2 separate regions of the Homo sapiens genome follow, and region 1 is linked to region 2. Evidence: fine-mapped expression QTL. A gene starts in region 2. The other region holds a variant in brackets. All regions are shown on one strand. Distances are from middle to middle. Region 1 holds the start of H1-6 (H1.6 linker histone, cluster member). Region 2 holds the start of HFE (homeostatic iron regulator).

Region 1 (2,913 bases), 22 kb before region 2:
CTTGACCTCCTGGGCCCAAGTGATTCTCCCACCTCAGCCTTTTGAGTAACTGGGACCACAGGTACGTGCCACCACACCCGGGTAATTTTTTAATTGTAGAGACAGGGTCTTGCTATGTGCTTAGGCTGGCCTTGTGAACTCCTGGGCTCTAGTGATCCACTAGCCTCAGCCTCCCAAATTTATGGGATTATAGGCATGAGCCACCCTACCTGGCCTGTTCCCTGAATTTTTTTTTCTTTCAGGTGTTTGTGCATATGTGTGTGTGTATGGGTATAACAGAGAGACAGAGAGAAAGAAACTTTTCTATCTCACTTTGCAATCAGAAGTTTGAAGTCTTATCTTTTGGCTTTTGTTTCAGAAATATTTCAAATGTAGACTCTCTCCTTTACCACACTGTCCCCTTAGGCAAGGTCTTTGCCATTCTTCTGAGACTATTGCAACAGACTCCCAACTTCTGACTGTGGGCCCTTCTCAAAAATGATTGTTTATGCAATAAATCTAAACCCAAGACAACTACAACAATACAACAAATTCTCTGCTTAAAAACTTCCAATGTCTGCCGGGCGCGGCGGCTCACGCATGTATTCCCAGCACTTTGGAGGCAGAGGCGGGCAGATCACTTGAGGTGGGGAGTTCGAGACTAGCCTGGCCAACATGATGAAACCCCATCTCTACTAAAAATACAAAAAATTAGCCAGGCATGGTGGTGGGCGCCTATAATCCCAGCTAATTGGGAGGCTGAGGCAGGAGAATTGCCTGAACCTGGGAGGTGGAGGTTGCACTGAGCCAAGATCACACCATTGCACTCCAGCCTGGGCAACAAGAGCAAAACTCTGTCTCAAACCAAACCAAAACAAAACTTCTAATATCTACCAAATGTTTCACACAAGTATTTGGGGATCTTCACAAATGGCCCTTATGGAGTTTTCCTTTGCTGAGACCCTATGCTCTGGCCACACTAAACTCATTCAGCATCCCAGAAAGGCCTCAGCCTTTGTGAGCAAGCTCTTATCTCCAGGCCTCTCACAAAGACCTGTTCCAGTAGAAGCTCAGGGGAGCACACTGGACATTATTCCAACAACCCTTTCCCCACAGCTATGCAGCCAAATCTGCCAGCTCAGTTAATTAATTAAGCAATTCAGAGATGAGGGTCTGCCCAGGCTGGAGTGCAGTAGCTGCGACCTCAAGCTCCTGGGCTCTAAGTGATCCTCTTCAGTCTACCCAGAAGCTGGGACTGCAGGCATGTGCCACCACACCCAGCTAATTTTTTTTTTTTTCAGTAGGGACCAGGCCAACCTAGTCTTGAACTCCTGGCCTCCAGCCTTCCGAAGTGCTGTAATTACAGGCATGAATC[A/G]CTGCGCCCAGCCAACCCGCCCAGTCTTGTTAGACATGGGGTCTGTAGTTTCTAGTAGGTTCTTGAGTCTAGGGTTCCTACCTCATGTTTTATAGTTAATTTAGGGGAGGGACTGTGTCTGTTTATCTGGGGATGTAGGGGTGGGCAGGGGGATAGAGGGGACTTCAATTAATGAAACCAGAAGCAAAACTCAGTTGAGGACACCGGTCATGAGAGTGGCCTGATTATGGCCAATCTTACATAATGTGTGAGATCTTGATATTACCCCATCCTTGAGAGTCCTCTATAAAGCTACAGGGACTTGGGAGCACCTTTAATTACAGACAACCCATGTTCCTGTGGATTATGATTTATTAGATTGCACATGCCTAAATAAAGACATCCTCTGCAGTCTTTTGACAATTCTATAAGCATCTTCTGACTCCGCAATTAGACAGCTAAGAGATCTGTGTTACTTCCCTCACATATATAAATAATTTTAAATAAAAATCATGGCGTGAATAATTTCTTTCCTCTACCGATTTGAAGCTATCCATTTGGAAGACCACTCTGAAGAGATGAAATAAGTCTTCTGCCAAAGATTACTTATTAATTTACAAGGAAAAGGGGAAGTTTTGTTCCTCTCCGTGAATTTGATTGAAAATCGAGGGCTTTCTCGAATAGTTTTGGCATCCAGGGTCATTTTTCATTAAAAAGAGAAAAGTCATGTCAAATATGAATTTCCGCAGATTATTCAGCACTAGACCCTGGGAGATTCTGTAAAGAGGGGTTTTGTTATACTCAACTTTTCCGGGTAAAACAAACACAAATACTCCTCCTCCAAGGGGCGGGGGCGGTGCCTAGGTGATGCACCAATCACAGCGCGCCCTACCCTATATAAGGCCCCGAGGCCGCCCGGGTGTTTCATGCTTTTCGCTGGTTATTACATCTTGCGTTTCTCTGTTGTTATGTCTGAAACCGTGCCTGCAGCTTCTGCCAGTGCTGGTGTAGCCGCTATGGAGAAACTTCCAACCAAGAAGCGAGGGAGGAAGCCGGCTGGCTTGATAAGTGCAAGTCGCAAAGTGCCGAACCTCTCTGTGTCCAAGTTGATCACCGAGGCCCTTTCAGTGTCACAGGAACGAGTAGGTATGTCTTTGGTTGCGCTCAAGAAGGCATTGGCCGCTGCTGGCTACGACGTAGAGAAGAATAACAGCCGCATCAAACTGTCCCTCAAGAGCTTAGTGAACAAGGGAATCCTGGTGCAAACCAGGGGTACTGGTGCTTCCGGTTCCTTTAAGCTTAGTAAGAAGGTGATTCCTAAATCTACCAGAAGCAAGGCTAAAAAGTCAGTTTCTGCCAAGACCAAGAAGCTGGTTTTATCCAGGGACTCCAAGTCACCAAAGACTGCTAAAACCAATAAGAGAGCCAAGAAGCCGAGAGCGACAACTCCTAAAACTGTTAGGAGCGGGAGAAAGGCTAAAGGAGCCAAGGGTAAGCAACAGCAGAAGAGCCCAGTGAAGGCAAGGGCTTCGAAGTCAAAATTGACCCAACATCATGAAGTTAATGTTAGAAAGGCCACA
Region 2 (2,913 bases):
TTCTGCTCAACATGAAATTTTATTATTCAACCTCTAATGCAGTGTGATGTTTAAGAATCATAGCTATGAAGTGGAGACATGAGCTCTGCCACCAAAGCCCAGTGTACCATTGAATAAATTTGCCAGGAAGCAGGCCGTGCCATGCCTCATTCTTGTCATGTGTAAAATGTGGATACACGTAGTACCAAAACTCAAAGTGCTGTGCTGAGGCCGGCGTGTGACCCACAGAACACTGTGCTACACTACAGGGCAAAATCACTGTCAACTAAGATTAGAAGCAGCTGTAGTACTTGAAATAACATCAGAAAACCAGATTATTTATGTTCTTTGTAACCTGAAAAGAGTTATATAATCTGAATTCCAGTTAACTTCTAGTAAAATAAACGTATTATTAGCTCCTACCTCCCTATGCCTAGTGAAAATCAAATAAGATCAGATATGAATGTAACTTAGAAGTGAGTGCATTGCTTACATGTTCATTATCAGTACTTTGTAGAGAGGCCTCTTAATTACACAGCACATTGCAAATCAATAAAGCCTAGCCGAAAAGAGAATTGTTCAGTTCAAACGTTCAAAACTAACATATACTTAATTTTCCAGGCAAAAGAACAATTGCCAAGAGTGGGGAAAGGCCCGAGGTAGGCCTCTCTCAGGAGCCTCCCACCCTAGAGACCTCCACCCCAGGTCTCACCAAAAGTGGGTGGAATGGTGAAGAATTCAGATCCCCAACGCCACTCTTTCGCGCCCCCACCGCCCAACGCATTCGTTCTGAGGTGGAAACCCCGTGCGGATCCTGCTGTGGGTTTGCTCAGCCTTCTCGGCAAGCACTCAGGGAAGAACTTCCTGTTTGGAGATGACTGGGGAAAAAACTGCACAGCTGACATTGGAAATAAACCCGAGTTCCAGGTTCAAGGAGCCCCAGGCTTAGCTCAGCTCAAGTGAGGAACTACGAGATTTATTTAAAAGCATTCTAGTTGGGGGAAGGGAGTGGGCGGTTCCAAAAGTCACTCCGCAGAGCCGGGACAGCCGGGGGAGGGGGCAGGTCCTGGGGCGAGGGACCCCTATCTGCAGTTCAGTGGTAGGCACTCCCTCACGGGGTCTGGACGCAGAAAGTAGGGAGAGGGGCTTGCGGATAGGGTTGAGCAGGTCCTCCAAAGTTAGCAAACTCCCAAGCGCAAAGAAAAAGCTAGTTTCGATTTTTCCACCCCCGCCGCGCCCCTAGTTCGCCCGCAGCCCTCGGACTCACGCAGCAAGCGCCCCTGCAGGACCGCGGTCTGCAAAAGCATCAGGAGGAGAAGCGCCGGCCTGGCTCGCGGGCCCATTTCCCCAGCTCTGGCCGCACGTCCCCGTTAAATCTCCGCTTCTTTTGGGGGGCGGGGAAACGGGGATGGCTCCAGAAGTCACCCTACAGCTATTGCCTAGGCTCAGGAGATGCCCAGTAAAACTTCCTGGTGAAAAGCAACAGGTCTTTCAGAACTTTAGTTCTCTCTCTCCTACAGCAGAAGGTACCTGCTTGTGAAACACTAGGTGATCCAGTGTCCCCCTTGGTTTTTAAATCCTGAAGGGGTGTTGTTGATTGGGGAAAGTAGCTTCGCAATGTTCTGATCTGAACTTTAGATATTTAAATATTTATGATTTTCAAAATTCAATCATACATTTAAAAATTTTATCTCAACCTTAGACCAACTTATGTCTTATTTGACTTAGAAATATAAAGCTTTTTCATTTTGTTTTTTGATTCAAATTAATTAAGTCATAACATTAACCAATTAGATCCTACTGAAACACCTTCCACAGCCTTCATAATTGAATTATCTGACAAGTGTTTCACAAACTTTACAGTATTGGGATTATCTGGAGAATGATTAAACATATTGAGGCCTGCTCCTAACCCCAGACACACTGATTTAATGGGTAATTGTTAGGTAGTTAGACATTAGCAGTTGGGAGGGGATGACAGAAGAGAGCGGAAAGGCTGTCACTAAGACAGCCACTGGCCCACCTAAATTCAGGCCCAAGACTACCCTAATGCCACCCTAAGGGATGGAGTTTATGATAAAGTCTGTGGCCAAAATATCCTGGAGAAAGAGAAAGGAGGGTACAGGTGGAAATTCCCTAAGGTGGCACATGCCCAACAACACAAAAGCCTGTCTTCAAGTTCACCCCAAGTTCATCATGCCATCATTATAATAGAATTTACATACAGTTTTGCCCCCCCATCCCTGGGAGGCTTTTCTTAACAAATTATAGGTAAGACCATGCACAGTTTAATTTTAGATTGTATAGCTATACACTTCAATCAAATAACATCATCCTGTCACTCAGATACAGCCCAAACCTCAACTCCTCCCCACAAACCCCATAAAAGCACCTTGAGCTCTGTAAAGAAGTGCTGAGTTCACTTCGCAGAAATAAGCCCGCTGTCCCTCAGAGTGTATTATTGTGCTTCAATAAACTTTGCTTTAAGCTTGCATTTTGGTGTTAGTTTGTAGTTCTTTGCTCACTATCACAAGAACTGAGATTGCTGGTTCAGAGCTCCGGCTATAATAATCTCCTCGGTTAAAGGATCCATCCCAATGCATAATTCCCAGTAACAGTATGGGATGCCACCTGGGCAATGGGATTTTAAAAGCTTTCCTTCTCCCTCAACGAAGTTTGGGAATTATTGCCTTAGACATTTCAAACAATATTAATAAATTTAATACACCTGATTTGCTCCAAACCTTTACATATCTAGCAAATTCAACAGGCATTATTTTTGTAAGCATGTATGCAAATTTTGGCAATTCAAGAAAATCAAACAGGATATCAGGGCCTCGACTGTAGGCAAACAGATACAATAACATTGGAAACATGTAGAATATTGATGATGGGCACATTGGGGCTGATAGTACTATTCCTTTTTTTCAATTT

The links. PIP is the estimated chance that this variant, and not a neighbour inherited with it, causes the effect.
Region 1: its variant is the best candidate, but not a certain one, in a credible set for the expression of HFE in whole blood (TOPMed, PIP 0.50).

What each region holds. Positions count from the first base shown.
Region 1 is chr6:26,107,482-26,110,394 of GRCh38, reverse strand. H1-6 (H1.6 linker histone, cluster member) reads left to right here and starts at 2,260. Exons shown (of 1, transcript NM_005323.4): 1 at 2,260-2,913. The coding sequence starts at 2,302. The variant A/G (reference allele first, on the strand shown) is at 1,355.
Region 2 is chr6:26,085,850-26,088,762 of GRCh38, reverse strand. HFE (homeostatic iron regulator) reads right to left here and starts at 1,334. Exons shown (of 6, transcript NM_000410.4): 1 at 1,247-1,334. The coding sequence starts at 1,322. It also overlaps HFE-AS1.